3 linked regions of the Homo sapiens genome follow. The protein of the gene in region 1 interacts with the protein of each later gene in a pairwise test. Each region holds a gene or a part of one and is shown on either strand. Other genes may lie near its edges. The genes, in order: CLDN1, TMEM9 and MS4A3.

Evidence for each region.
Region 2: the proteins of CLDN1 (region 1) and TMEM9 interact in binary tests that used the Homo sapiens proteins (3 or more experiments, as listed by UniProt).
Region 3: the proteins of CLDN1 (region 1) and MS4A3 interact in binary tests that used the Homo sapiens proteins (3 or more experiments, as listed by UniProt).

What each region holds. Positions count from the first base shown.
Region 1 is NC_000003.12:190,317,779-190,329,967, reverse strand, and holds the start of CLDN1 (claudin-1), read left to right. Parts: upstream 1-7,521; 5' UTR 7,522-7,761; coding exon 7,762-7,984; intron 7,985-12,189.
Region 2 is NC_000001.11:201,134,272-201,142,633, forward strand, and holds the end of TMEM9 (proton-transporting V-type ATPase complex assembly regulator TMEM9 isoform a precursor), read right to left. Parts: intron 1,545-8,362; coding exon 1,392-1,544; 3' UTR 501-1,391; downstream 1-500. UniProt on the Homo sapiens protein: Transmembrane protein that binds to and facilitates the assembly of lysosomal proton-transporting V-type ATPase (v-ATPase), resulting in enhanced lysosomal acidification and trafficking.
Region 3 is NC_000011.10:60,057,667-60,069,825, reverse strand, and holds part of MS4A3 (membrane-spanning 4-domains subfamily A member 3), read right to left. Parts: intron 8,681-12,159; 5' UTR 8,666-8,680; coding exon 8,510-8,665; intron 8,304-8,509; exon of another isoform or gene 8,272-8,303; intron 7,359-8,271; coding exon 7,221-7,358; intron 5,565-7,220; coding exon 5,508-5,564; intron 2,876-5,507; coding exon 2,714-2,875; intron 253-2,713; coding exon 151-252; intron 1-150. UniProt on the Homo sapiens protein: Hematopoietic modulator for the G1-S cell cycle transition. Modulates the level of phosphorylation of cyclin-dependent kinase 2 (CDK2) through its direct binding to cyclin-dependent kinase inhibitor 3 (CDKN3/KAP).

The sequences.
Region 1 (12,189 bases):
CTAAGAATCCAACCCCATCATACTTTTTCAACTGTTTCTTTTCCTGTTTTTCTTTCAATTCAGACTTCAGTCCTGAAGTCCATTCCTCACCTAGATAATACTAACATCCTTCTAACTGGAATACACTGCTATACCTCTCTAAGATTCCTCTCCCCAAAGCATTCTTCACTGTTCAGAGTAATGTTCAAATGCAAGTCTTATCAGGTATTATTCCTCCTTTAAACCATTGAATGTCTTTTTATTCCCCTGAGAAAAAAAGTTAAATAACCACAGGTTAAGTTAATGATTTGCATGAGCATATTAATCAAAACTAATGTCTAATACCCACTTTTCCTCATCAATCTTCCTGGTTCCAAGTCTTATTATTCCTCCTAAGACAATACAGCCAAATTGCATCTTACAGGCTAAAATCATGCATAATATTATTGTTCTTGAAAATCCCTCAGGAAAGAGCCATAATAAAGATTGACATACTGTATAAATTCAAAAGGTTGAGCTTCTCCTTCCTCTCTGAAATGGCTAAAACTGAGATAGGGAATAAGAGTCATTCTTCCTATCCAATGTTTGATCTCCTTTAGGAACACAAGTAATGTCTCCGTCCTGTGATGACTGGGTAAAATCCCCAGAAGTTTTTGAAATTGTCATGGCTCTTAGCTCAGAATAGATATGAAATCACATAAAGGTATAAATATTCACTTTCACCCATCTCTGGTGGGTGCACTCATCTCTCTATCTGCAATGTCCCGCCTTTGACATAGTTCAAACCCTCTCACCAACCCATCCCTAAACTATTCAGCTTGTTCATTAAATTAACTTATATCTCTTCCTTCTGCCTCCCCCCCAAAAAATAACAAATTTGCTCAAGTGTCTTCTGGAAATTCTGTGATTGCTCCTTATTGACTACTATGTGATAAAGTCCACACTTAGCTTGGCATGCAAATCCTGTAAGTTAAACTATTTACGTTGTGCACTACCTATGCATATGTTGCACCAAATGCCTACAGGGCCCAGAGAAGTAACATAAATGAACAAAGTAGAAATAGCAGATACTTTGGAGAAATCAGAAACCATAGAGCTGCATAGTATTGCCATCTCGTTTGATTACTCTAAACAAAAGAGAATCTAGATTTTTAGGGAAATCTTTCAATTTTTCAAAGTTAAAAGCTAATTTAGTTTTTGGAAAATTGCTGAGCAGTTCAAACAAAATGCATATTCAGGTCAAACTTGAGATGCAACTCACCAGTTTGTAACACTGCTCTATATTTATATATAAAATCTTGTTTTTTTTTTTTACGTAGAATGTTCTCTCCCTTATGTAGCTGGGAGTTTAGTTCAAATATTTTGTTCAGCAGGATCAAGTCACAGCCAGCCTACCACACTCTATTCCTTGCTAATGGAATACTTACCCAGGTTCTCACAGTACTGCTATCATTTATCAAACACTTTCCAAGTTCCAGATACAGGATTTAGCATTATCCATAAGTGACTTCAATCAATTTTATTTACTCCTCACAACACTGTGAGATACACATATTTCTTTTCTTTTACAGATGGAGAAAATGAGGCATAGAAAGATTAATTAACTTGCCTAACATCATGTCTAATGGAGAGAGAAAGTAGTATCATATCCTAGATTCTGTCTTATCCCAAAAATCAAGGTATTAAAAATTAAGATATTTTGTGTGTGTGTGACAGGTCTCACTCTGTCACCCAGGCAGGAGTGCAGTGTCATGATCACAGCTCACTATAGCCTCCATCTCTCGAGCCCAAGTGATTCTCCTACCTCAGCCTCCCGAGTTGCTGGGACTATAGGTGCATGCCACCCATGTCTAGCTATTTTTTTTTTTTTGTAGAGATGGAATCTTACTATTTTGTTCAGGCTAGTCTCGAGCTCCTGCAATCAAGTAATTCTCTCACCTTGGCCTCCCAAGCTGTTAGGATTATAGGGATGAGCCACCACACCTGTCCAAAAAATTATGATCTTCATCGCATTGCTACTTATTTCTGCTTTGATATGTTCTCTAAACACACACAAAAAAAACAAGATCTACTTGTGAGTCAAAATTGTTTTATTCACTAAAGTGTTCCTAGTGCCTTGGATTATAATAAAGATTAGAGAGTCTTCCTCTATCAGTCCATCCATCTGTTCACTAATTCCGTTAGTTACCCCTCACTTACTGAGTACTTCCTATTCACTCTGATATGACTCTGATTTGGTGGCCTGATGAGGATGCAGTCTTTGGGTATCACTGTACTAGGTAGTTGTAACTTTGGAGAGATACAAAGGAGGTAACTGATAAATATTTGCTTCAGGTGTAGGATAGCGTACCACATAAGCTTTCTGGATCAAGAGCCAGAACAACTGAGTTTGGAGGCCAACTCTGCTTTTTGCTAGCTGTGTAACTTGGGATAAACTACTTTACTTTTTCACACCTCACTTTTCTCATCTGTGTTGATAGTTATCTAATTCAGTGGCTTTTTTGAGCACTAAGTAAGTTTATACAACAAAGCCCTTAGAATCTAAATGATCAGTAAGTGTTAGTGAGTGTGATGGTTGATTTTATGTGTCCACTTGGCTAGGCTATGGTGTCCACATGTTAGGTTAATACCAGCCCAGATGTGGCTGTATTCTTTAGTTGTGATTAACATTTAAATCAGTAGACTGTGAATAAAGTGCATTACCCTCCGTAATTTGATGGGCTTAATTCAATCAAGGAAATACGGAGGTTTCCCAGAAGAGCAGGAATTCTGAAACCTAAAAAATTTCAGACTCTAGACTGTGAAGTCAACTCTTATTCAAGTCTTCCGCCTGCTGGAACACTTTACGAATGTTGAATTTGGCAGCTCCCACAACTGAATGAGCCAATTTCTTATAATAAATCTCTGTCTCTCCCTTCCTCTCTCTCTCTCTCCTCTCTCTCCACAGACACACAAATACACACATGTAGTCTATTCTTTGGAGAACTCCCACTAATAAAGCTAGTGTCATATTAAAGAGATTACAAGTAAAATATTAGCAATTTGACCTTGATTCTTGTTCAAATCAGTTGAATGTTTCTAGTATCTCTAAGATAAAAAGGATCTTCCCCAAATGACACAAGTGAAAGGATAAAAGGAACAGTCATTCAGCACCTTGTTTCAAGGTAACCTTTTATGACTGAAACAGAAGGTTTTATGGCTAAAATTTCATCCCCTCCCAAATTCTCTGAAGAGATGGACCTGCTAGGCTAGGAGTTAAGGGGGCAATCTATGGGGGAAGTTTTATGTCCCTGAAAACAAGGGAGGCACTTGATAATAAAAATATCAAACTGAGGTTTTGTTTGTTTTTCTCTCATTACCCTCTACAGATTCTTGCAGATCTGTGGGAGTCATCTGATATCACATCGCCATTCTCCCTCTTGGCCAACCCCTCCTCAGAAGAAGCCCTCAGGCATTAGTCCTAACCAGGGAAACTATCCAGAGCTAGGAGGGAAAACATCGCAAGGCTTGGAGAGGGGACCTAGAAATCTCACTGAAAGCTCATACCCCTGCCATTGCTGCCTTCTCTTTTTCTGAACACAACATTGTGTCTTCTTTCTAGAGAAACTGCGTATCTTTTCACTACGATTTAACTATGACATTCAGTGGGACTGTAACAGAATCGAAGCATGAAAGAGTCCTCCTGAACAAACATGAGGATCATTTGCAAATGGCAGGATCAGAAATGGAACGTATCTGATCTGCTTGAAATAATAAGTACTGTTTCATGTATGCTTGCTCTATACCAGCTACTATTTTAAATAATGTGCATGTCTGAACTTGTTTAATGTTCATAACAGCACTAGGGTTTGAGCCATTCAAAAGAAGAAAAAATGTGAGTCACAAGGATGTTATGCAAATTTCTCAAGGTTACTTTAAGTGGCAGTAATGGGATTCAAAAGGTTTGTGCTTTTAACCACTACCCCTCACTACCCTCTCAAAGACTCCAAGGAGCTTCAAAGGGCCATTTTAAAAGGTTGTGTCAGTCACACAGCAATGCAGTTTTAGTAACCTGAATGTTTTAATACTAAAATTCATGTTAAATTTATACAATATTTGTACTCTGATCCTTTTCTCAAGCCCTAAATAATTACACAGCAGATTGCTTACTTAGTAATGTGTTCATTCGTTCTGCTTTTACCACTTAAGAAGCTCTGAAAAGTCAACATTAACATATATTAACACTAAGCAAAAAAATTAACATCCCAATGGCTTTCATACTGTCATCATTAACCATTTCTGAGAATCTGCCATGCTGCCTCTTAGAGGCTTGGTTCTTTGTCTACACTCTCTTCTGACACTCACAGTCTTACCTTTGCTTCTGTCTTTTATGTGTATATCTCTTCTACTTATTATTGGTTCTCAAGATCATGGCTAAGCCCAAGCATCAGTCGCACAAGCACATGGAATAAACCAGTACGCTATTTGCTGTTTTTACACATCTCTTCCTCCTCAACAGCAACAACTTTTTGCCACATGATTCTAAATCCCCAGGGTATAAAACCTCAGTGGGCTGCAACAGATATTAAGAAGAGACAGTCACAGAGTAAAATATCTTGCCACTGCCTGGAGCAAGAAACACATGATAAGTATGTCTAAGCTCTTCCAAAGAAGAAAAAAAAAATTGTCCTCGATTGATTTGGGTCACACAGAGAAATACTGCAGGAGAGCAGTCAAAGGCATGGACACGAGCGTCAAATTATATAGTTTGGAATTCCAGCGCTGCCATATTCAATATGAACTTGGATAAGCAGCCTGACCTCTCTGTGTCTGTTACCTGCACGTAGAGATAGCATATAAAACTCTGACCTCAACACTTGATGAAAATATACAGCAACAAGTGCCAGCTGTCATTACTTAGAGTCATAAAGCTTTAGACTTGGGTGACTTTCAGAAATTAACCCCATCCCTTTTATTGGTAGGGAAACTGAGGAAGAAAAGAAGTAATTTGTCTGAGGGTACATAGCAGATTTTACTACTCAACAGGCTAGGACACTTACCATACCATTGCCAGCCTTTCTAGAGCCTTCTTGGTCTCAGTGCTGCCTTTACTGTTTATGTTTCAGATATGAAAGGCCAGTATTTGGAAGCTGTTTTTCCTCTTAAGTTGATAGATTTATGCTGAGCCATTATCTCACCTGTCCTCTGCACTTAAGCTAGGAGCAGAAAACTAGACAGGATTAAGGATGCCTAGAGATGGGCCTGAATCACAGTGAAGCAAACAGCATTCACCTCAGCCTCACAAACATGGTTGTGGGTAGTGAAGTAATCAGCCTCGCACAGACCTGAAATACAAAACAAAAACACGGGACCCTGCTGACCACAGAACTCATCCCTCCGATTCCCCGCTAATTGTAGGTTGATAGAAACCAGTTGTAATGCAGAGTAAAAGGGCCTGTGCACAAATATATTTACTGAACGCAGAAAATGTCATTTATTTGTTTATTTATTTATTTATTTATTTGTTGAGATGGGGTCTTGGTCTGTTGCCCAGGCTGGAGTGCAGTGGCACGATCTGGGCTCACTGCCACCTCCGCCTCCCGGGTTCAAGCAATTCTCCTACCTCAGCCTCCCAAGTAGCTGGAATTACAGGCGCCCACCACCATGCCCGGCTAATTTTCATATTGTTAGTAGAGACGGGGTTTCACCATGTTGGCCAGGCTGATCTCGAACTCCTGATCTCAAGTGATCCGCCTGCCTCAGCCTCCCAAAGTGTTGGGATTACAGGCGTGAGCCACTGCGCCTGGCCTGAGCCACCGTGCCCGGGTGTTTAATAATACTTTTAATTCTTAAATGTTTGGAACAAAAAAAAGAAGAAAATGAGATTATATGATTCACATGGTACTGCTCTAGTCCTGCAGCAAATTCCAGTGCCTTCTCTGATCAGGGAATTTTTACAAAATCAAATGTGATTGATACATCTTCATCCACACTGACAGGCACCCACAGAACATCCACTGAGACCTAGACAGTAGTACTGACTGCAGGCCCTAACCCTGGGATACAACACGAACATGGTCTTGTCCTAAACAGCTGATAGGAGAAAGACAGTATTCACTGTGTTAATCTCAGTCCAAATTAATTGTCTTCATCTAGCTCCTGTCTTACATTCTTCATTGCTTGTCCCTAAATCCTAGCACGGCCAAGTCCTTTAGTTTTAAGCCTACATGAAAGGCATCCAGGGAGAGCCAGGTGGAAATGAAGGTGGTGGGGCTTGGCCTTTCTTCCCATTCCCACCTTGAGAATTTGCACCTTTCCTTCTCTGTCACCAACTAGCAGTTGCCATGGTATATAAGGGTATATCTTATTTTATCCTTAATATGTTTATTTCTGCTTCCAAGATGCTTCTGTTTTTACTAAAACCATAGAAGCTTCCCCTCCCACCACACTCGCACCACACACAAAAAGCAGTTGGAAAAACATTTCAATGATTCCTAACCACAACAGCACTTCTGACTAACTACAAAGAAGGAAGCTTTGGAGAAACATAGAGGGAAACTACAGTCCCAGCGAGACCGAAACCGGAGGGGTGAGATAGCCAGTCACAGTAAAAGCTGGAACCAGAGCCCAGACTTCCTCAACTCCAGCCCAGTCCTTTTGCCACTGGGGAAACGCTGTTTACATGTCCTCACCTGCGACGAACAACATTTGATAACTCACAAAATTAACACCTTTCAGGGAGAGCGGGGCACTGGCCAGGTCCCTCTGATAATGAATTGCTGCTCTAAGACATAACTGCTGTGGGGAGGAGGTTGGTGTTTGGCGGGGAAGGGCTGCTAGCCTGCAGTTTCATAAGGACAATAATACATCAAAAAGGACAATCATAGATCAAAGGGGATATTTTGGGTCAACTTGATATGTAGTGGAAAGCAGATTGGGAGGGGAGCCAAGTACTGGATATGCTCCGTGCGTGAGTGTGTCTGTGTGTGTGTGTGTGTGTGTGTGTAAATCATGTTGCTCTCTGGGTCTGTTTCCCAATCTGTAGAGTGTAAAAGTCTCTGAGGCTCCTTGCAGAGACAAGTGATGGAACGACCTTGACAGAAGAGAGCAGAGAGAGGAAAGAAGGGGGAGGAAGCCAAGCAAAGGAGAGAGAAATGGTGTGATGGGGGAGGAGACGCGGAGTTGGGTAGAAATGCCTTTTAATAAGATATTGGGAAAAAAGTATTAAACCTAAAACTGCAGCTCTTGAAGGATCATTTTTTCATCTTTGTGTTAGGATTTACAAGTACAGTGCATAGTAATTTTTGGATAATTGGAGTGAATGAATGAAAAGCGTGAAACGCCTTACAGGAGCGAGAAGATCCACGAGAGAAAGCGAGCAGGGACGCAGCTCTGGTGCCTGGTCCTGCCGGGTGGTCCCCACGCCGCCAGCCGCGCGTTCCCCAACCGGGCGCTCCCGGCGCCCTCTCGGTGAGCCGCCCTGAAACCGCCAGGGGGCGCTCCCCGGCTGCCGGGGCTGAGGCGGGCGGAGCTGCTTTAAATCGCGGCGCCCAGCGGTTCTGCGTCTCAGTTCCCGAGCCTGGGAGCAACCGCAGCTTCTAGTATCCAGACTCCAGCGCCGCCCCGGGCGCGGACCCCAACCCCGACCCAGAGCTTCTCCAGCGGCGGCGCAGCGAGCAGGGCTCCCCGCCTTAACTTCCTCCGCGGGGCCCAGCCACCTTCGGGAGTCCGGGTTGCCCACCTGCAAACTCTCCGCCTTCTGCACCTGCCACCCCTGAGCCAGCGCGGGCGCCCGAGCGAGTCATGGCCAACGCGGGGCTGCAGCTGTTGGGCTTCATTCTCGCCTTCCTGGGATGGATCGGCGCCATCGTCAGCACTGCCCTGCCCCAGTGGAGGATTTACTCCTATGCCGGCGACAACATCGTGACCGCCCAGGCCATGTACGAGGGGCTGTGGATGTCCTGCGTGTCGCAGAGCACCGGGCAGATCCAGTGCAAAGTCTTTGACTCCTTGCTGAATCTGAGCAGTGAGTGCACCCCCACCTCACAGCGGCCGTCCAGAGGCCCCAGTCCCCCTGCAGCTCCCTTATGGGCTCATTCTGTTGTGTGATTCCATGGTTATCAGTCTTCAGTTGATCAAGTCTTCTGATCATGTGCTCTGTCATAAGGAAATGAAGAGAATCCTGGTTTGAGGAAAGCGACGCCCAGGCATAAGCTCTAGTTTTGCCTCTAACTCCCTGGGTGACACTTCTGCCACTCTAGGTGTGGCTTCATCCTAAATTCCTATGCTGGTGGTTCGAGTTGAGGGAGTGAAGGCCAAACTTGAACTTGAGCTCTTAGACCTCTCCTAGGCATTCCGAGATTTGGGGTAAATTGAGGATTGGTAGAGTTCAGACAAGAAAATGGGATGACTGAAAAAGTTTGAAGCCTGGTAACTTCTCAAGTGTGCACGCTTAAATAAATAATCCTCAAGTATTAGATATAACTTTTTAACCTTTAATATGATTTTTTCATAGTAAAAGTTACATTCCTACTGGAAATGTCCTATCTAAGTGTCTTCTGCTTATGCTTGAGGTTGATTCTTTTAATTTATAAGATCCAGTTAGTGCAGGGAGGCCCCTTGCAAGACTCTTTGGAGAAGCTGCTTGAGATTCCCCCGAAGTTTTAATTTTCAGACCCAAGGTCTTCTGTAGAGGCTGACGGTGTAGTGCTATCTTGGAAAGAGAAGGTTGGTGGCAGGTGGGGAAAGGCTGACAAGAAAGGTTCTAAATAACCTGCGCAACATAATACAAAGAAAAAAGTAAAGGCACTGAAGGGAAATGCAGCAAAATAGTCATAGCTGATGAAATCAGAGGTCAGCTGGGAGTGGAAGGCAGTGAGAGAGAAAGAAGAGGTGGGTCTTCCTTAGGTTTCCATCTTCCACAAAGAAATTTCTGTGTAATGGATGTTCAGTGACCCCCTGTAAAACTGGAAAGGATTGTATAGAGAGACATATTTCTAAGGATGGTGGGAAGAAGGATAATAGGATAATTGTTTTACTTTGTTTTTTAAATTAAAGGTTTCGAGTTCCTTGTCCGAAAAGTCATTAAATTCCCATTTACTTAGATAATAATGATTCACGGCTGGAGTATCTTCCTTGAGAAATCACATTAATTGTCTTATATCATGTGTCTGTTATGCCCTTTAACTCACTTGAAGAAAAGATCCCTTAGTCTTTGCCTAGATGAACGTGACTGCCCACTGGCCCCCATTGCATGCTAAGGGTGAAAAGTGTTGGCATTGTTCAAGTTTACTTAACTTGTTTTGTCTACCTCCTATCAAGGGACAACTTTTAATAGTGTATATCAAAAGCCATATAGTTTAGAGTTATTAAACCTGTTCCAAATCTGTTTGAACACCTTGAATACCTGTGGCATTTGCTCAGTCAATGTGCATGGTTGTTTTGAGTGTTATTATTTCAGCTTTTGAAGGTTCTCATATCAGGACTTCTTTACACCAAAACCAATCCATAAGTTTAGTAATTATGTGTTGCTCATTGCCCTCAGGGGTTATATTTGTACTTATAAAATGAAAAATTTGGTAATAATTATTGAATTTCTCCATGGAAAGATAAATATATTTAAGGAAACGGTGTCAGGCATTTTAGGTACCACGTTAAGGAATTGGCAGGTGGAGGTTTCTAAGGACAATTCCAGAGAGGTCTCACTGTCAGTTTTATTCCTCTGATCAAAATAGTTCCTTTTCAACATCTTTAAATAGGTTTTCTTTTAACTTCCTGAAATGACCAAATGAAATCAGATTGATCTATGTTGTAAATACTCAAATGGATCATCCTTACACATGATAATGTGTTAAAATGTTTTACTTTCATTTTTTGGTTAATGTAGTTATTACAGTTTTTAAAACTAGGGTGAAAGGACTAAATACCTACCCCCCCACACACACTTTAGAGATGTCTTCCTATTTTTTTAAAACTCCAGATCAGAATCCACTTTTATTTTACTTAAAGCCATAGTTTATCCAAGGTGTGGCTTAGGCCTTTCTCTCAAAACCCATTCTCAGAAGAGGGACCCTTGACTCACAGGTGTTCTCCTCTCACCTGCCGTGACTCACGGGATGCTTTTGGATAGAACCCAGGAAACCTTACTTCATTTCTCTGCCTGAGCAGTGGTGTTTACGCCCACCAGCTGTAGAGATCTGGGATGGTGATTCATTGGCTGGTTTTGGTACAGTTTTGTTACATGTAGAGATGAAAAGGGTTATGTGTGTATATTTAAGCAGTATCACTCAGAAAAAAGCTGCATTTCATTAAGTGTGTTTAGGTGAAAAGCTTAGCTGTGGGTTTCCCGAAATTGTACCTTGCCGTCTTTCCCAGTAGAGCACACTTGTCTTCCCGGCCAGATGCAGGGCTTTAGCACGGGAAGTATTAAAATCTGTTGTTTCCCTGCTTTATGTAGGGTAGGTCATAAAAAGCATATGACCTTCATAAAGTATCTGAAGGAATACAGTGTGCTAATAGTGTATACAGTAAATACAAAATGAGATAGAGCAAGGCTTCTTCTTTTAGGTAGTTCTTGCCAAGCGGTTTATGAAAATGTAACTGAGGCACTTCCTGGGGAAACAAATGTCACATTGTGTATTGTAGTTTTATAATGGCTGATACAATTTCCATTTCATCCAAAGTATGTGATTTTATTGACCCTGGGGATTCTTGTAGCTGAAAGTTGGAATATACAAAAAGTGCCAGATACAGTTGTAGTAGACTTTTCTTGATTCACCTGTACCTCTCGCCTTGTTTTCATCTAATTCTCAAACTTTTAGGAAGCTCGCGCCAATTTTATGTGCTTGCTTAAATGCTTCTTCTTACTTGACTTTAATAGCTAGAGCTGTCCAAAGATTGAGTTGCTGTAGGAGGCTGCATGGTGGGAGGTGTGCAAGCAGAGAATAAATAAGCATTTTGAAGGAATGTTGTAGGGAAGATCCAAGCACCAGACAAATGGGAGGTTAGGCTAGACTCTCTCTCAATCTCACCGAACCCTGAGATTCTGTAATTTGTTTATAAGCTCCTCTAGCCTGTTTAACTTGCTTTGCATGAATCCACATGTGTGTAGGTGTGCTTAATGAGTATTGGTGGCTGTGAGCTTCCCCAGCACTCTCACCATGATGTCAGGCTCAATCAGAGAGACAAAATCACTGACGTGGACAGTCTTTGAAGCCTAAGTGGAGAGGAGGGCACCTATTTATGCTTCTCCAGATGCGTTGTGCCTGCTGAACCGAGGGTACTCGAAGGGCCATTGGTGTTCAGATATACTTCATAAATTAGTTCTGACTCTTAGAATAATGGAAGTTGAAGCAAAAATCCAGGCTTGAGATCAGAAATTCTCTGTTCTTACTGTGGTTTGGCACTAAGTAGCCAAGTGTATAATGGTGAGCCACTTGATCTCCCTGGTTTCAAGTAGTTACCCCACTTATAAAATAGGGCAGAGTGGGAGGAATGGGGAGATGAATCTATGATTCGTTTATCCATTCAACAGATGCAAGCTAGGCCCTATTCTTGCTGCTAAGGATGGTGCAGCTAAGATGAGTTCTAAGATTCCTTCCAGTGCCAGAATTCTTTGTTATTACTTCAGTGATTGAAGGGGAAGAGGCAAGTCACATAGCTTAGGTTTCCTTAATTGGAGTGATTAAGGAAATATAATGGAGGTAATATAGAAGCATCAACTTAATTCTGAGAAAATTTCTTGAAGAAACACACAAACAAGAAAGGTAGCAAAACTTCTGAGGACATCCTGAAAAGTGGTACATCCTGCCTCATCCAGGATCATTTTCACTCCTGATTTTGCTTATGTTCTGAGTTCACATCTGGTGACCATCACCTCATGCACCAATAAGAGGGAAATGCTAATGATTAGGACTTTTATGAAACTTTGAACTTCCGTAAAAGTAAAAGATTTAATATGGAGAAAAGCCAGGGGAGTACACTTCTGTGACTGTCTGTGTTGAGCTCATTTAATTGCAGGGGAGAAGGAAGCACAATATTTTTGTTCTAGTCACCCAATCATCAGTTCATTTATTCACTTAATACTTATTAAGCAACTACAGATGCAAAGGGAGAATTGGAATCTGCAGTCAACATTTGAACAACACAGGTTTGAACAGCAAGTGTCCACTTATAGGTGGATTTCTTTCAACCAATACCGATCAAGAATACAGTATCTGAGAGTCCAAAGCC
Region 2 (8,362 bases), on another chromosome or scaffold:
GTGCCGGGCTCCCCTGGATGTCCCTGTTGAAGCTGCTGGCATTTCCTTCTGTATGGGGCAGCTCGTTTTCTAGCTGCCCCCACCCACCCCTCTCCAAATACCTGTTGGTTTTCATTTGGGGATACTTACAGGTTTTGCAGGGAGCGCTATTTACTGTGTCTGTAGGATATTAGGATGAATCACGCACTGTTCAGTTTCAGAGGAACTGCCCATAAACATGAAGTAAAATCTCAGGATAACTCCCAAGGGCCAGTTCACCCTGTGCTCCTTGCCCCAGCCTACCCACCTCTTTCCTAATCAGGTGAGGAGGACTTCCAGCAAGCCGTGGCCTTGGCCTGATTGCACTGTGGCTGGCTCTGCCACGGCCGCCTGGACTTCCCAAGGCTCTGCCTGTCTGGACCTAGCAAAACGCAATGCTCTCTGTCCCCTCTGGGATACTACATTTACCAGGTCACTTGTGAAAAATTCCTAGTTCCCTAAATCTCTTAAAAACCAGAAAGTGAGAGAAATAAAACAATTTAATGATGGCTTCCTTGATTTACACACAACTCTAAGACAAGAGGACAAAATTTTCTCTCCATGCACTGGTACAACGAAGTTCAGGGACAAGAGGCAACCCAAGTACAGGGGCTGTGGTGTTCAGATCCACGCTCAGCCTCGAGTCTCATGTTCCAACCGACCGTCTGGCTCAGTGACTGTGGACACTGGGGAGAGGAGGGACTGCCCAGACCCCTCAAGTGCAGGTGAGGGGACCGGCAGCAGAGTATGCATGGGCACTCCATGCCCCAGTGCGAGAAGTGCACAGGGGACAGCGAACACCAGCTTCCAGTGCACCCTGAAGACCCAGTGGGCTCAGGGGGCCCAGCTCTCCCATCAGAGCTGTCCTCAGGGCTGGAGCTGGGGCTGGGGCTGAGGCGCTGGGGCTGGGAGGGAGGTGGTGATAAGAACCACTGCAGAAAGGAACACATGCTGAATGCTGGGCCATGCTTTCCTCCCAGACACTGAGTTCCTGAAGACCCAGCTTTATCTTCCAAGGGTAACAACATTCCCAAGACTCAGAGCTGGAAGGCGGCAAGAGTGGAGCCAGGAGAGACAGATCGCATCCACTCCTGAGGCCGCCTCGAATGTCTCCATTCCCTTCTGGCCTGCCTTCCCCCTCCCTTCAACCCCAAAGACCCAAGAAGACAACAGAGATCAGAGACCACATCCCTCTTCCCTAATCAAAATAGCCAAGTACAACATTTCTAAAGTTAGGGAGAAGGAGGAAAAATGCCACAGGCTTTTAAAGGGAAGACTGGAACCGAGGGAAGGGAGAAGTAGCCCCCTGCTTTGTCCAGCCTGGAAGCTGGCAGCCATGGTGTTGGGGCCTTGACCCAACCACACCAGCCCATCTAGCTGAGCATCTTGTGCCGATCGAAGACTGTCTTCCGCTGCTCCTGCACCTGCAGCTTCCACCGCTGCTGGGCACCTTCCACACGCTCCAGGACTGTGTTTGCTCGGGGTCCCCCGAGGGATGCAGCAGCTGCTGCCATAGAGCGAGCATCCTGTAGTGGGAAGAAAAAAAGAGAAGATCTGGCACGGTAAGCCAGAAGGGTCTTGGATCCTGAAAGTCTGACATGGAAAGAACGAACCCCAAAGCCTTACCTTCCCCAGACTGGGAGGCTGGGCCTCCCCAAGTGCTGCAGGCTGAGGACCTTGCCTTGTCATCTGCAGAGCTGAACACAGTGTGCCAGGTCTGCTGGAAGCCTTAGTGTCTGTAGCATCTGCAGGATGGGGCCCCTGCCCCTCCCTGGGGCCTGGGAAAGGAAGCACTCCAGGAAGAGTAGGTTCTGCTGGGGCTCCAGTTACTGCCACACAGCTAGCTCAAGGGAGGTTCCCAGCCTGAACCCACCCCTCACCATGCCCCATTCCACTATTTCTAACTCTCAAGAAGGATGCTAAGTATAGGCTTCAAGACCTCACTTAGGCAGAGGACTTGATGACATCTGTTGTTTCAGCAATGCACCGAGGTGCCCCCAGGGCTAGTACTAGGCTAGAGAACTCCCCTGCCCTCCACGCCATTGCCCAGGGGACAGGAAGAAGGCCCAGGGGCTAGGGTCTGGCTACCCTGAGATGGCAACACATCTGCTCCAGATGGGAGGGGGCCTACTGAGGAGTCTGCATAGATCCAGATCCATGGGATCTTAGTTTCCCTGGGAAAGAGGGATGTGACATCACTCAGGGAGTCTGACAGGGATGGAAATTCAGAGCCGCCCCAGCATTCCCTTTGCAGAGCCCTCTCTGGCCCATTCCCTCCTTTGATAGCTGAGGACAGCTCAGCTTCCTCCCTATCTGACTCTGCTGATCCCCTTCCCCTTTGCTTTCAGAACTGTTGCTGCCGTCAAAAGCATCCTCCCCTAATTACCACTTCTCTGCCTCTGAAGCTCCGGAGCCTCTGCATTTCCTGCAGGACCTGAACCTGATCTTTGGAGAGAATTAGAGCTGAGGGCCAGGCCCACACCCCCGTGGGGATTTCCTCCCTAGCTTTCCCTGCCTCTCATCTCCTGCCACACATCTCTTAAGGGATTAGTGCACTTCTCTAAGCCCAGAGCCGCCCAGTAAATGCAACTTTGCTTCTAATGCCCCAAGCTGGCACGGCTTCTGTCACCATGCAGCTGCTACGCTGGGGCGAAGGGGGGTGGTGAGGTGAGGGTAGGGTGGACAGAGAACAAGCTGGCAGTGAGGAGGCTGGGAGAGGGTTCATCATCATCCTCTCAGAGCTCTGAGGACTTCATCTTGTGAGTGCTCCTCTCTAAGCTGCGTTAGAGATGGACACTGCCTTCTGGGAGCCTCCCGCCCAGGTCCTGAGGAAGGCTTCCTGTGCCAGGCTAGGTGAGGCTCAGGCAACGCCTGAAAGGCACGTGTGGCCATGTCAGGCAGGGGGCATACTGAGCTTGGAATTAGGACCCCTGGGTTCTGTTCCTGGGCTGGGGATCACCTGCCCCTTCCAGCCTCAGCCTCCCCTAGGCTCGCGTCCCAGGTGGAACTACAGATCCACAGCGGGGGCTGGGAAGGAGACATGGCCTCAGTCACTTATGAGGCTATGTGTCCCTGAACAAGTTACTTTATTTCTCCAAGCTTCAATTTAATGTAGTAAATGTAGTCATTGAGACTTTTTTCTGCTATACGGTCATTAGGAATTATAGTTACCAAATTATCTAACACACACACACACACACACACACACACACACACACACACACACAGAGTGAAAAGAAGTTTCATAAAACAATACTTAGTGTAATGCATTCTGATATTCTTTGCTCTGTTCCATTCCATTTTTTTAAAAATCCTGGTCATGACTCACAGAATTCATTTCATGACCTAATGGCTTGCTTGAAATACACTGGTTTAAGATTAGTAGATGGGTATGGCAAAGTTAAATAACACACATATAAAGCACTTACTATCCTGGCTGTCACAGAGCTAGGGCTCAAGAAATGTTTGGTTTCTTTCTTCCCTAGGAGCGATGACTAATATCAGAGCCTAGCTCTGGAAGCCACTAGGCAGTAAGGCTGGCGGCTGGCTGCCAGGAGAAAGCCTGTGAAAACTGCCATGGCTGCTGCCCCTCCTTCCAGTTCCATGCCTTCCCTGTTCACTGTGCTGACTGAGCTGGCCACAGTGCTAAGACCAAGCCTCCACCCAGTCCTGCCTCAGTGTGGCCGTCTACATGAGGTGGGCACTAAAGACCCATCTGGGAAGCTATTGGCCCACCGGGACTTGGCTCTGGGGGCTGGATTGCCTTCTCTTCTTCTTTCCATTCCCAATCTCATCCTTTCTGGGACCATCTTTCTCATGACAGGGCTCCAGTGTGTGTGTGGGGTGGGGTGCTACGCTTGGAAGGGTGGGGCAGCTTTAGCCCTGCCCTCCTTCCACTGCTCTGTATCTCAGGGGAGCGTCTTGAGAAGGGGAAGCCAGGGAGAGCCCAGAGCACAGCATTAAGGGAACATGCTGAAATTCACCACATTACCACAGTATCATTTGTTTTCCCTTCATGTAAAGTCTTAACAAACAGCTCCTAAGTGGGGGAAAGCTGCCACTGAGAGGCTGAGTTTCCATCGCTAATAGTCTGATTAAAAGGTATTAAAGACTCCACATCTGTTTCAGAGACAGCCCAGAGTGGGGCCTCATCCTTGCTTGCTCTGCAGCAAGTATGGTGGGTGGAAGTGGGAGAAATGCCACCAGTTCCTCCCCTCTCCCTCTGAGGCTGGGCCTCCGGTTAACTCGGGAGCAGAAGGGCAGTTAGGAGGGGAGGCGGGTGGAGCCCCTCCCAATCAGAAAAAGAGCTTGGACATGGATGGATTCCCAGGAGGTCCCCAGGGGGACCAGACCAGTGTGACTATGACAAGTGCCACTATGTGCCAGGCGCTCTGCTAGGCACTTTACACAGATTATTCCCAGGCTTACAACACTGGCAAATGGGTAAAACCATCCCCTATTGTAGCTGCAGAAACTGAGGCTCTGAAAGATGAATCATCTTGCTGCCCAAGGCTGCATGGCTGTTTAGTGGCCAAGTCGGAATTTGAACCCATGTACGTATATCTCTTATCCTAGGACCCAGCTGGATCCTTCTTTGGCTGGTTTCTCCTAAGAGGGAGCCAGCATGGACAACCAAAGAGACAGGCTGGTATATTTCCCCACAGCTAGAGCAAGAACAGAGCACTTCTAAAGGAACCAATGCTCAGGACATCAAGCGAGGCCCTCTTCTCCACACTGGAAGGACCCAAGTAACTGTGTGGATAAGCCCCAGCTGATCAAACTAGCCCTGAGCCCTTCAGGCCGTCCCAGATGAAACCCTCTTCAGTCTGCCCAGAAGCACTGGTTCTGAGCTGGCACTGGACTTGGCCAAAGCCTGATGACAAGGAGACAGGGAGAGTGAGAACCCCACCTCAGGCGGCTCTCCTCTCTCTGGCTGCTCCTCCTCCCTCCTCCCCAATCCCAGGCACAGGAGCATGACCAGGTGGTCTCATCACTTACCAGCCACTCAGCAAAGCATGGTCCTAGTGCAAAGCCCTTCAGCAAGAGGACTATACAGCCTCTCTGAGTTTTCCATGTTTGACCCAAGTCCTTGCTGCTGTTGCTGAGTCCCACTGCACCTCTGCTGCGAGGCTCTCCCTGACCCCTGCACGCTGCGGCTAGGGCCACCTTCCTATGACACACCAACTCATGCTGTTTCCCTGCCCAAAAACCCCAGCTGGGACCCACCTGCTCACAAATAAAACCCTGCTGGGCCTGACATTCAAGGGCACTCCCAGCCTCACCTCCCCCCTTACCCCCCAGCCCAGCCTCTGGCCACACTGGTCCATGCATCCTCTGTCTACCTGCGGTGATCCTCACTCAGGCCCTTGTGCACGCTGCCCCTCAGGCTTCCCTCCAGCAATCATGATGCTACTTAAGTATTAACACCTGATTGAAATAGCGCATTCTTAAGGACGAGCAAACACTTGTAAAGCTTCCATACACACGATCGCAACAGTTATGCTGAGGTAAACATGATTATGTGTATTCCAGACTTAGAAAACTAAACCAGGAGGTTAGCACCAAGGATAGTAAATGGCAGGGCTCGGCCCCTCCCAGGACTGTGATTAACCACAATGCTGTGCTGCCCCACTGGAGGCTCTAGAAGCGTCTGTTGAACCGCACATCTTTCTATTCTGCCCTCAGGGGAGGAGGCCGACTGGATTGCCCTCATCAGTGTGTCTGTTCCGTGTTTCACTGTCAGCTTCCCAGGGCTGGGGTCCTCAGAACACAGCTGCCACCCATGTGCAGACAGGAGGGGAGACTGCTCCTCAGTGGCCCGAGTCTTCTCCCCGGTGCCTGCATGTTCCAGTTCCCATCATCATCATCACCTTTCCTTGATTTCCCTGTATACTCTCTCCCAAAGGGGGCCCAGAACTCTACCCACTGCCCCAGCAGGGTGAGCACTTTGAAGACCTCTCCAGAGCTTGGGCCCATGCTGTGAGCAGCGACATCCCCAGCCTCAGAGAAACCATGTGTCTCTCTTCAAAGAGGGCCCAACCTGCACATCTAAAACAGCTCTGTTTGCCGTTTCTGCCCCAGCAAACATGCTTGCTTCCTCCTTTCAAAGGACGTCTGAGCCCAGGGATTATGCCTAATGCTGCTGGAATCCCAGGGGAGGCAGCGCCCAGCAATCAGGGCCTACTGAGGCTCTGCCAGCGCTTTCAAAGGGAACATGACAAGCTTTCATCTCCCTCCATGAACGGGGCTGAGGCTGAGGGGGAGGCCTCCTCTTCCTCTTCCAGTTCTTTACCCCCTGGGCAGGAGAGCTCCTGGTCACAGGAATTGGGGAGAAGGAACCAAGGGGTCCCTAACCCTGAAAAAATGCCCTGACCTCCAGATCTCACCCCTAACTGGGTCCCAGACTTCTGGGGCGTAGGGCCTGAAAGCTCCTGGAGCCTAGACAGAATTTTCCTTCTAAAGTCATCGAGTTGTACAGGCCTAGGCGAACTTTCAAGGAACCCAAGAGGCCATGTCCTGACTTTGTTCCTCTTGGGGTGAAACCCAGAGACATGGCTACAGCCTAGGTGCTGCTGCCGCTCAGCTGAATGCCTGCCCCCCAGCCCCATGTTTCCCCACATCCCTTTCCTCTGTGCACTGAGAGGGGCAGTAGATTATCCCTCGTCGTCCAGGACTAGGGCCCCCAGTCTCTGTAAAGACAAGCTCCTTGGGTTCTGTCCAGCCCCAATGCCCTGTTCATCCTCCCTGCAGTTCAGCGGTCACTCTCCCAACCACCCTGAGTGGGCACTGAAAATCCCCCTCTGCCAGGAAGCCTTCCTTCCCAGACTAACACAACGAGAAGGGTAACTTTCCGACCCCTTGTCTAGTAAAGAGGGGCCTCCCAAGGCACCTGACTTTTCAGCTGACCACCCGTCTTACGAAGCCAGATCTTACTGCCAGCCTTTACGTTTCCTGCTGCTTTACCTGCTTTTGGCCGTCTTGGGGCTTAAACCCCCGAGGGCAGACATAAGGTCTGTGCAAATCTCAACACTGTGCCACCTGCAGGTTTTCTGAATACACTGAGAAAAGCAGAGTTGCTGAACCACAGACATCTGTGACCTGGAGACCACACAGAATCACAGGAGGTGAGGGGATAGAGAGATGATGCCAAAGAACGGGACTGGGGGCACTTCCTTACCCAGCCAAGGGCACCCAATGAGATCTACCTGCCCCAGGCCACAACCAGCGAGAGTTGGCTGCACCCTAGGTCAGGGTATCAAAGAGATTAAACACAACTTTTTATGAGCTTTTAGAACCTCAGGTGAGAGGTGAGGGCGTGTCATCCTGTCCATCCCAGGGCCGCAACTTCCCCTACAGGAGGGAGCATGGCTCGCCAGCTTCTATGTGCTGCAGCCTATCACAGCCTACTGTCCTCCCAGGCAGTCCTGCCACAGTTACCAAATCTAGCCCTTCTTCCTCCCAAGGCCCCCTCATACAAACAGGCTTCAAATGAGGAGCACTCCAGGTCTCCTGGGGGTAAGAGAGACCTGGGTTCATACCCAGGGACGGCAAGCTGCTCTCCCCAAGCTGCCCTCCCTCTGGCTCCCTGGCTAGGATGGCAGGAGACATAACAAGGCCATGCCCCAGAGCCATGCATTCCACGGAAATCATTGGGCTGCATCTCTCAATTACTACCCCAGCCAGGACTGCAATTACCACATTACCCCTAATCGCTGAGTGTTTATTAGCGATGCTCCTCCCCTATCAGAGCTGCTATTACTCTACATTAATAACCAGGTAGGCACACGAGGTTTCCTCTTGAACACAGACCACCCAACTGCCAGTGCCACCACCTCCCAGGCCCTAGCTCCAATGGGGCGAGGCTCATCCCCTCTGCTCCACCTTCGGCCAAACTCATGTCAGCAGGAGGCTGGGGGCAAACTGGGAGCAGTCCAGGCATGTGCGCAGGGTGGGGCAACACAGCCCTCGAGAGCAGCCAGGCTCCCTCCCTGATCTGCCCTTCTCTTCGCTGTTCATGCTGGCCCAGACCCACATCACCCAGGCAGCTTCACACTTAGACTTGAGCCCCTGGGTCCTCTTTTTGGTGAGGAACTGGCTCATGGTCTTGCAAGGGAGCCCAGCCCACCTACCCCATAGTTAGACCACGCTGTCTACAGGAAGACTCCCAGCCTCCTCCTCATATTGTGTTAAATCTCTCTGTCCCTGGATGAAGCCAAGCTGTCTTCTACAAACTTCTGAAGGCAGCTATCATGCGTCTCCTTTAGTTGTTTTTCTTTTCCTTTAAGCTAAATGACTCTCAGTTTCTTCAACTAATTCTCTGAGGCCTAGCTGAGGCGCTTCCCGA
Region 3 (12,159 bases), on another chromosome or scaffold:
TCCATCTCTAACATTCATACAATCTCTAATTCCAGGAACTCCACAAATCATTACCACATAAAGGTTTATTTCTAAGCATCAGAAACAACTTCAAACCCTACAGGGAGGCTTTGAGATCATGTGAATGATTAATCATTTGAAAAATCTCACCTCTCTTGAATTACAGCAGTTTGCATTGCACCACATGGCTATGGTAGAGATGGTTACGCATAATTCCAGCAAGGTGAGAATCAGCAGTAGAGACACCATGCCCTAGGGGATATGATGCCTTATATCAAACCCAGTGGCAACATCCAGAGGTAAAAAAAAAAATGTCAGCAGGAAACCAGACTACAACATCTCCCTCCCGTAAAGTGGAACAAAGTGAACCATAAATTAAAGACAGAGACACATATAACACTGTAGAAGAGATAGTATCTCAATCTAAAAGCATGAAAACATTTTCTCTAATGAGAAAGATGTGTCACATTTCTATGTCAACGCATGTGAAGTAGCTACAGGGGGAAGAAGCTGTAGAAACAAAATTCTGACATTATCACTAACATCTTCCAATCTGAATAGTAGTAAACTAAGGAGAGGAGTAGGCAGTTTAGAAAAATGAACAAAAATGGCCCTTCCACAATTTCATTAGCACTTCATAGGGGTTTAGGCATTTACATTATCCCTAGAAACTAAAACACTGAGCTAATATAAACAAAAAATAAAATTGTTGGGCTAATGATTCTACTATTATTACTGAGGCACCTAGAAGCAACCAATACAATATATCCCTGGAGGAAAAATACCTCCAAATTCACAGAAAAATCAGGCTCCGACAAATATAAATTTAGATCATTAAAAATGTAATAAAGAAAATGAGAACACAAACTTCCATAAGTAGTGTCTCACCCATAGGTGGGAACTGAACAATGAGAACACTTGGACGCAAGGCGGGGAACATCACACACCAGGGCCTGTCGTGGGGTGGGGGGCTGGGGGAGGGATAGCATTAACAGAAATACCTAATGTAAATGACATGTTAATAGATGCAGCAAACAAACACGACACATGTATACATATGTAACAAACCTGAACGTTGTGCACGTGTACCCTAGAACTTCAAGTATAATAATAATAATAAAAAGAAAACAGGAAGCTTAGGAGTGAGTCTGTAATTAACAGTTCATAGATCACTGGGATGAAATGGATAATTCCAAAGGAAAATATTAATTTCTAAGTAGAGTTCAGAAGAGGTAGAGTACCTGAACACAAATTTTTAAAAAATTGGTAAGGTTGGCTGGGCGCGGTGGCTCATGCCTGTAATCCCAGCACTTTGGGAGGCAGAGGCGGGCGGATCACGAGGTCAGGAGATCGAGACCATCCTGGCTAACACAGTGAAACCCCGTCTCTACTAAAAATACAAAAAAAAAAAAAAAACAATTAGCCGGGCGTGGTGGCGGGCGCCTGTAGTCCCAGCTACTCGGGAGGCTGAGGCAGGAGAATGGCGTGAACCCAGGAGGCGGAGCTTGCAGTGAGCCGAGATGGCGCCACTGCACTCCAGCCTGGGTGACAGAGCAAGACTCCGTCTCAAAAAAAAAAAAAAAAAAAGGTAAGGTTATTAAAGAGCTTTCCTTTGAAAACACCATGCTAATTTCATTCTAAAGCGCAGTCCTTCAAAACTTCAAGTCATTATTTGAACATTCCAGATTGCAGAGAAAGTTGTAAATCTCTCAAGTTTGTTTTATTAAGCAAGGAGATATGAAATGAAACTTTATTTTTTTATTTTTTTATTTTTTGAGACAGTTTCACTCTTTTTGCCCAGGCTGGAGTGCAATGGCGCAATCTCGGCTCACCGCAACCTCCGCCTCCCGGGTTCAAGTGATTCTCCTGCCTCAGCCTCCCAAGTAGCTGGGATTACAGGCGCCTGCCACCATGCCCGGCTAATTTTTTTTTTTGTATTTTTAGTAGAGACGGGGTTTCACCATGTTGGCCAGGGTGGTCTCGATCTCTCGACCTCGTGATCCGCCTGCCTCGGCCTCCCAAAGTTCTGGGATTACAGGCGTGAGCCACCGCGCCCGGTGAAATGAAACTTAAAAAAAAATCTCTCTGGGGAGTGTAATAGTAGTAGTTGTGGTAATAATAATTGTGTATCATGATATGCTAAGCCTTGTTTTAATTGCTTATCATATGTTAACTTTTTAAATACTCACATAAATCCTATGAGACGGGTACTATTGTTATCCTCATTTCAAAAATGAGAAAATTCAAGGGATTATCTAATTTGCCCTTCATTATAAAGCAAATAGGCGACAGACCCAAGATTCAAATTATGGGATGGGCGCGGTGGCTCACGCCCCTTATCCCAGCACTTTGGGAGGCCGAGGCGGGCGGGTCACGAGGTCAGGAGATCAAGACCATCCTGGTTAACACGGTAAAACCCCGTCTCTACTAAAAAAATACAAAAAATTAGCTGGGCATGGTGGTGGCCGCCTGTAGTCCCAGCTACTCGGGAGGCTGAGGCAGGAGAATGCTGTGAACCCAGGAGGGCGGAGCTTGCAGTGAGCCGAGATCACTCCACTGTACTCCAGCCTGGGCGACAGAGCGAGACTCCGTCTCAAAAAAAAAAAAAAAAAAGATTCAAATTATGGCACATTGGTACCTGATATATTATTTTTCTGTACATCCTGGATTGTTTGAAATATTTTATACTTATACATATTTTTCAGAAACATACATTTGATATGGAGCCCATGTAATTGCATAGGTCCGGTGACTCTGATGAAGAGTGACAACTCCTTAATGACTGGATATTAACTGCTATATTTAGTGAGAGAAAAGCAGTCCCCACTAGTGCAATTGTAGCACTGGCAATGTTCATTCCAAAACTGTTCTGTATCTAAAAAAGAATAAGAATTTTCAATTAATATATGCAGCACGTACTTCATTCCTTTGGCAACAATTCATTGAAACAAACATTGATTGAATATTGTTTACACACCCACTGATATCCTAGATGCGAGGCTAACATCAATGACCAAAGAAAGATTTCTGTCCCCCACCCTCCATGGAGCTTATATTCTAGCAATAAAAACAAAGAAAAAAGTAAACATACTATAGGTAAATTACATAATATTTTTGAAAGTGATTAAGTACTAGGGGCTAACAGAATGGGATAAGGAGAATCTGGGAATCCAAAGAGAGGAGTGGGGGTTCATGATATTAAATAGAAATGACACTGGGGAGAGGCATGAAAGAGCTGTGGGTGCCAGCCAGGAGGATATCTGGGGGAATATCCTTGAAATTAGGGAAACACTCAAAATCCTGAGGCCAGAATCTTCTGGGGCAGCAAAGGGGTCAAGGGCGTTGGAGGCACGTAGTCAATACTAGGAAATGAAGAAGAAGGAAAGTTAACAGAGAGCCAAATCATGTGGGGCTCTGCAGATCATGAAAAGGAACTTGTTTCTAACTCTAAGAAAAATACAAAGCCAATGAAGGATTTGGAGCAAATAAATGATATACTTGGCTTTATGGTTTCAAGGGATCACTGTTTCTAGCAAGGCAAAGAGAAGTTCAACGATAAAAGCTAGAAGCCCAATTAGGAGAGACAAGGTGGATTGGATGAAATGTCATCAATAGAAAGATAAGAAAAGGTCAAAACTGGATATAATAATAGCTTGAAAGTAGAGCCAACATTATTTGCTGATAAATAGGATTCAGGATTGTGAAAGAAAGAAGACTCTTGGTTATTCTAAGGTGTTTGGTCTGGGAATCTGGAAGGATGACATTCCCATCAGCTGACATGAGGAGAAGGTTTGAGGAAGAAGACTGGGAGTTGAGCTTTGGATCTTTACATGCCAGTCTGATGATCAGGAGAGACACCTGGGCTGGAAATACTTATTTCAGGGTTGTGGGCATACAGATATTACTTGAAGTCATAAGAATGTGTGAGATCACAGAAGAAGTACGTATAGATTGAGAAGAGCAGGTGGCAAAGAATTCAGCTCTGGGGCACCAGAACATTAAAAGGTCAGAGACAAGGAGAGGAACCAGGAAAGGAGACTGAGATGGAGAAAGCAAAAGATGGGAGGAAAACCAGCCAAGCAATGTATGCTGGAAGCCAAGTGAGGAAATTCCTGGAAGGAGGAGTGGGCGACTAACTATGCTAAATGCTACTCATAGCTTAAGTTAGATGAGGAACAAGAGTTGACCGTTGTTTTAGCAGGGTGGAAGTTTTCAGTGATCTTAAAGACAGCAGTTACAGAAGGATAGTAGGGAATAAAATAAAGTCTTATTGAAGTGGGTTTGATTCAAACCGGTAGATGGAAATCAGAGAAAGAACATGATGATTCCTTTGAAGGAGTTTAGCTACAGAAGGAAAATACAAATTGTGCCTGTCCCTAGCAGGGAGAAATAATGTCAAGGTTTTCTTGTTTTGTTTTGTTTTGTTTTGTTTTTAAGTTGAGAACAGTAACTGGATGTTTACATGCTGATTAGAGATGGGGCAAGGTAACTCACGCCTGTAACCCCAGCCTTTTGGGAGGCTGAGGCAGGAGGACTGCTTGAGCCCAAGATTTTGAGACCAGCCTGGGCAACATGGCAAGATCCTGTCTCTACAAAAAAAAAAAAAAAAAAGACAAAAATTAGCCAGGGATGGTGGCACACACCTGTAGTCCCAGCTATGTGAGAGGCTGAGGTGGGAGGATTGCATGAGCCCTGGAAGGTGGAGGCTGTAGTGAGCTGTGACCACACCACTGCACTCCCATCTGGGTGACAGAGTGAGACTCGAAAAATATATATATAGCAGAGAGACAAAAATTAAAGTGATGCACTTGTGTGGGGAAAAAAAGAATGGAATCTTATACTCAAGTAGGGAGATCAGCTTTAAAGAAAATCACAAAATTTTCCTATGGTAAGAGGCTAGAAGAAAAAAATACATTGGTACAGATCTAGTCCATTAGTAGTGGAGGTCTGAAAATTCCCTTCTAATGGCTTCAGTTTTCTCAGAAGAGACAGAAAAATCATCAGCAGAGAGTAAGGATGACAGAAGTGGGATTGGTGTTTGAGGATACAATAAAATGGTAAAATAGCTATCCATGGAGGAGGGAAAGTGAATGAATGGAGTAGGAAAGTGGAGTATCAGTGGCTACGTGACTCACTAAGAACACATCATAGAGACTTAGCAGTTGTTTAGAATAGAAGTTTGGACTTTCAGTTGTCAAACTAGTTAGTGGTGGGAGTTCTTACTTCCAAATAATTAGAATTGGTCAAACTTGACAACACATAAAAATCAAGAAGACTTTTTCTAAGCTTCAAGTTCACCAATATTAAGAGCAAGCATCCCAGGAATGCATCCTCACAATGTATGTGATCTGCTGACCTACCATCTGAACACGTTAAGAAAACTAATATTTTGTGCATTAAATGATACTCAGTGTCTCAGTTGTATTCATGGACACTTACTGTCCTACTGTTTATGAATAATATATTTCTACTCCTCTGATCATAGAAAAAGAGGAAGTGCTACTTACCCATGTTCTTGTGGGTTTTATCCCTGCTACAACAGACAAGGTTCCTGAACTACAGAACTGTTTGAAAATAGGAAGGAAAACAGATAAAGGAATATTAAGTCTCAACCATTTTCTTCTTGGTCCTCCCTCAATTAGCAGATATCCAGCAATAGTCATACAAACCTCCCTTTTAAATTCACATCCTAGGACACAGAATTGTACTTGATGCTGCTCACTTTATTTATTTATTTATTTATTTATTTATTTATTTAGTCTTTCCATGCAATTAGTTTTATTCATTTTATTTTTTAAATTTTTTTTATTTCCATACGTTATTGGGGAACAGGTGGTGTTTGGTTACATGGATAAGTTCTTTAGTGGTAATTTGTGAGATTTTGGTGCACCCATCACCCAAACAGTATACACTGCACACAATTTGTAGCCTTTTATCCCTCACCTCCTTCCCACCTTTCCCCCTGAGTCCCCAAAGTCCATTGTGTCATTCTTATGCCTTTGCATCCTCATAGCTTAGCTCCCGCTTATAAGTGAGAACATATGATGTTTGATTTTCCACTCCTGAGTTACTTCACTTAGGATAATGGCTTATGCAAGGATTTAATGACGAAGAAGCCAAAAACAAATGCAATAAAATCAAAGATAAATAGCTGGGACCTAATTAAACTAAGGAGCTTTTGCACGGCAAAAGGAACAGTCAGCAGAGTAAACAGACAACCCATAGAGTGGGAGAAAATCTTCACAATCTATACATCTAACAAAGGACTAATATCCAGAATCTGCAATGAACCCAAACAAATCACCAAGAAATAAACAAACAATCCCATCAAAAAATGGGCTAAGGACATGAATAGACAATTCTCAAAAGAAGATATACAAATGGCCAACAAACATATCATTCACTTTTTAAAAATGAACCATCAGGGAAGTAATAAATAATCAAAACTGAATGAATACATTTTAAAATCACCCCTATTTCTTCTGATTGAATGTTGACCCAGATAATGGAAATGATTCTTCTGACTTTCAGACAGTAATCAGCAGACAAATTTCTTAACTCTCAAGCCAGGACTCTCTGCTGTACCACAAGGCAATTCATCAATACCCATTTTTCATTCAATTTTTTAAGTATCTATAAATGTAACATATAGTTATATATAAGATAATTTTTAGGACTTCATTTGTACTTGGCAAATGTGGTTTCTCTTAATCAGAAAGAGATTTTTGGCCTGGCATCAGGGCTCATGCCTGGCAATTCCAGCATTTTGGGAGGCCAAGCTGGGAGGACCACTTGTGGTCAGGAGTTCGAGACCATCCTGGAAAACATGGTGAATCCCTGTCTCTACTAAAAATACAAAAACAAAAATTAGGTGGGCATGGTGGTGCATGCCTGTAATCCCAGCCACTCAGGAGACTGAGGCAAGAGAATCACTTGAACTGGGGAGGCAGAGGGTTTCAGTGGGCAGAGATCATGCCACTGCACTCCAGCCTGGATGGCAGATCGAGACTTTGTCTCAAAAAATAAATTAATTAAGTAATTAATTAAATTAAAAAATAAAAAAGAGTTTATCGTCTCTAATTGTTTATATCAAGAATTGCAAATCAAAACCACAGCATGCAACCTTCCAATAACCTACAAACAATATTTTTGTCATCAAACACATCTCCAGCAGTGGTATCTAAGAAATAACATATAGCCAGGGGAGTACGAATACTCACAAACACAGCACCCCAAATCGGGTAGCCTGTGTAGAAGGTGAAGAAAAAGAAGTGCTTTTGGAAGTGGTATGGGTATTGCAAGGAACCCAGAAAGACACCCAAAGCCAGAATCATTGCTGCATTCAGGATCTGGATGGCCTGAAAGAAGAAAGGGGAAAAAGGCGTAACAGTCATATACTAAAGTGGACACTGAAAACAGGCCATTTTAATTTTCCTCAGAAAGGAGATGTCGGTGCTTGAAATGGTTAAAGTGTCAAGCCTAAATTAACAGAACGAGAGCTTATCTGAAAGAGTTTTTTATTCCACGCTATCCACACCAATTCCAGTGGCAGCATTTTGTCTTCACCTCTCCCCCACATTTCTGTTCATTCTCACGAACTCCTCTCAGAAAGTGGCAGGACAGTAAAACAGACATGATTGGTAAGGTAGATGGAGTCAAAGTCTCTTCCCAGCATGCTTTTGCATCATAATATGATGAAGGCAGACAGAGGATAAGCCATATCCTACTCAGCCTTTCTCTCAACCCAATTTTTAACCCTTCTCTCAACCCAATTTTTAAATTTAAAATATAGAATATAAGCTTCATAGAGCTCAGCCTCCTCAAATGGCTGGTCAAAAGGCACAAAACAAAAAATGAAGGGTCTTGGAATCTGTTCTCCAAGGTTTGATGTTTTCTACCATGAGAAAATGCCTTTGCATTTCTGCTCCCCAGATCTATAAGAAGTCCCTGTCTTTTCTCCAATCATTATTAAGTCAGTGATAAATAACTCAGAATTTCCTCCTTCTCAGCATAAGCAAGGTTTTCTACATGATACAGTTGGCTCTTGAACAACATTGGGGTTTGGAATGCCCACCCTTTCATGGTGGTAAATCCACGTAAAACTTATGACTTCCCAAAAACTTAACTACTAATAGCCTACTGTTGACCAGAAGTCTTACTATTAATATAAACAGTCGATTATCACATATTTTGTATGTGACATATTATATACAATAAGCTAGAGAAACTAAAAACGTTAAGGAAATCATAAGAAAGAGAAAATGTATTTACTATTCATTAAGTGGAAGTAGATTATCATAAAGGTCTTCATCCTCATCCTCTTCACGTTGAATAGACTGAGGAAGAAGAGGGAGAGCAGGGGTTGTTCTTGCTGTCTCGGGATGGCAAACAGAGGTGGAAGAAATCCACATGTAAGGGAATCCTCACAGTTCAAACGCACGTTATTCACAGGTCAACTGTATTTATTTTCTTCCCTCTTAAATCAGTGTTTAAACTAAGGCTGACTTACCCCAAGAACTTGTAATTTTGCTTTCTGATAATCTGGTGATCCATCTATGGGCTGGTAGACAGAAGTATTCAGCTCTTCTGGTCCCGCCTCACTGCCTGGGGTACCATGGGCAGAGGCTGACCCCAGCTCTGCATTATCAACTTCGTGGGAGGCCATTGGGGTTGTTTATGGCTGTGATAGAAAAGAAATCCAAAGCCTTCATGCTTTCCCTTTTTCCACTAGCTACTAAAATTTTGAGTGTTACAGAAGGGTTCAATTCTGTCCATACATTACAATGACTCTCCACAAATGGGACACCAGGGCAGAGTAACAGAGTTTGTACAATATTCAATTCTGTCTTGCCTTGGAGTAGTAGACATCATCGGGTCATTGTAGTAGGCCTTGGTGCTTCACTTAACTTTGGAATGGTAAAGAGCAATTTCTTTCTCATTTTGCATGCACTGATATATAGTCCCTGCCTTTCTTCAAGTCAGTCAAGGGCAACCAGACATATGGTTTCTCTGAGCAGTGGTCTCTTTATAAGAATAATGGCTTTAGTCACATTCCAGTAATAATAGTAGGTGTCATTTATTTAGTACTTATTACTATATGCCAAGCACTGTCTGGATGCTGTGAATGTATTAATATACTTAATCCTGTTATAATATTATTATTATTCCCGTTTCACAGATGAAAAAAATTGAGGTATAGAGAGACCGAGAAACTTACCCAAACTCATATGGCTTATAAATCATTTCAGATTTTACTAAAAACATTCTACTCTAAGGTCCAATATTTTTCAAATCACCACATTATATAGTACTATATAGAAGACGTCTTTCTGAGTACCAACATAGCATGGTAGAGTTTAAGCACTATGGAAGATCCAAATTCAAATCCAGATTTCATCATTTACTAGTTGCATGACCTAGTAATGGGAACCTCAGTTTTCAGAGTTTAAGCACTATGGAAGATTCCAATTCAAATCCAGATTTCATCACTTACTAGTTGCATGACCTTGTAGTGGGAACCTCAGTTTTCACTTCTGTAAAAATGGGAATAATTTTAATTTTATATTAACATTGCGAGAGTTGACTTTGATAATGTACGGAATTCTCAACCTGTGAACAGGTGGTATCAGCTTTTAACTTATACTCTGCCTTCTAACAAAAAGGACTTCAAGTTTGTATATATATAAGGGTCACAAAACAACCACCTCAATCATTACAGCTGAAAAATATGTATCACTAAAGTACACACAGAATGCTTACATTGGACTTCTGAATGTTGGGCAAGATAACTTCCTAATTCATAGTACCCTCCTACACAAAATAGTTGTAAAATGCTTATATGCTTTTATAACTGATGAGGGAGATGGCATGAGATGAACCATAAACAAACACATAAAATGATGCTGTATTCTGCCATAACTATCGATTGGGTTAAGAATAAGATCTTAATATAAATCATTCTACCATAAAACACATGCACGTGAATGTTCATTGCAGCACTATTCACAATAGCAAAGACATAGAATCAACCTAAATGTCCATCATTTGTAGACTGGATGAAGAAAATGTGGTACATACACACTGTGGAATACTATGCAGCCATAAAAAGGAATGAGATCATGTCTTTTGCAGGAACATGGATGAAGTAGAAGCCATTATCCTTAGAAAGCTAATACAGGAACAGAAAACCAAATACCACATATTCTCACTTATAAGTGGGAGCTAAATGCTAAGAACAAATGGACACATAGAGGGGAACAAAACAACTGGAGATTATCAGAGAGAGGAGGGAGGAGATCGGGAAAAATAACTATTGAGTACTAGGCTTAGTACCTGGGTGACAATCTGCACAACACACCCCTGTGGCACGAATTTACCTATATAACGAACCTGTACATGTACCCGTAAACCTAAAATAAAAGCTTTTTATTGAAAAAGAAAGTATAGTATCTTAATTTCTACTCTTTGTTACAAATTATATACTAGATCCATTTTTCTAATAACTTAATTTTTTGTCAAGCTAAATACACGCCACTTTCAGGATGTTTACCTTTCTGATACTCTACTCTGGGGGTGTGTATGACTCATTTAAGTGTGATGACAAATTTACTAAGCATTGACTAAAAGTGAGAGTCAAGCCATGTTTTATTATTACACTGGGAATTGCTATAAAAATTCATAAAATTCTCTACCAATACTGATAAAACATTTATTATAAATGTCATAAAATTTTGCTACCAATACTCTTCATCAAAGTTTCCTACCAATATTGATTTTCATGCCAAGATTAAATTACATTCTGTATGTATTTAAGTATGGATAAATGTGAAATGACAAGGAACCCTTAACCCCCCGTGTTCAACACTGTACAGAACCCAAGAGCGAGGGAAGATCAATAAAGCTTAAAGCAAACTCTATGTGAATAAGTTCCTAACGTAATTATCTGCAAAAAGTATAAATAAGAATAGCCAAAAAGCCAAGACTTCAAATTTATCCACTGGGAAATTTGTGTGTATTTTGGATTAAATATCTAATGAACTAAGATGCATGCAATACGGAGAATGTTGCTGCTTTATGACCAGATAATCTCTCGCCTACGTCTCCTGCCTCACCCCTCACCCATCCCTATCTCAAAACTCCATCCAGCCTTATTTTCTTGATTTGTCTTCCTTCAGAAGTTCTAAACCCTCAAATGTCTTCAATCCTCTGTGCTATCCCCCATTCCTGAAAGACAAGTCCCCTCAAGCTTCACCTGGATAATTTCTGCTCTCCTTCCAGACTGAATTTTTTTTTTTTTTTTTTTTTTTTTTTTTTTTTTTTGAGTTGGAGCTTTGCTCTGTCTCCCAGGCTGGAGTGCAGAGGCCCGATCTCAGCTCACTGCAACCTCCGCCTCCTGGGCTCAAGCTATGATCCTGCCTCAGCCTCCCAAGTAGCTGGGATTACAGGCGTGCACCACCACACCCAGCTAATTTTTGTACTTTTAGTAGAGATGGGGTTTTACCATGTTGGCCAGGCTGGTCTCGAACTCTTGACCTAGGTGATCCACCCACCTCAGCCTCCCAAAGTGCTGGGATTACAGGCGTGAATCAATGCGCCCGGCCCTTCCAGACTGATTTTCAGCCCACATGTCATACTTCCAGGATGCTGTTTTTAGTCCTGGCCAACTCTGGAAGAAGCATGCACCCCTTTGGGTTGCTCTCAAAATTTCCTCAACTTTCCTTCTCATACCACTTAATCAGCCTGAGCTTTAATTGCCTGGATACTTGTCTGTTACCTCGTTGTCTACTCATCACTGCAACTCCAGTGCCTAGCTCAGAATCATCAGATGGCAAGCACTCAGTTAACACACATGTTCAATCAGTAACCAGACTTTTGGTCCAGCCCAAGGTAGCCATCCTGATAAATGATGATGGAAAATACCTCTGCAAGCACTGGAGCCTCTCATCTCAAGAAACTCCAAGAGCATTTCTGAAGAGAGCAAATATCTAACCATATTATTTAACTTGATTTGTTTCAAATAATCAAAATAATCAGGGAGAATTTTCAGCCTCCAGGTGAAACAAACTATGTTTTCTAAAATTTGGTTAAATCAGTTATTTATTTTTAAAAAAATCAGAGAAATGGTCCGGGTGCAGTGGCTCATGCCTGTAATCCCAGCAC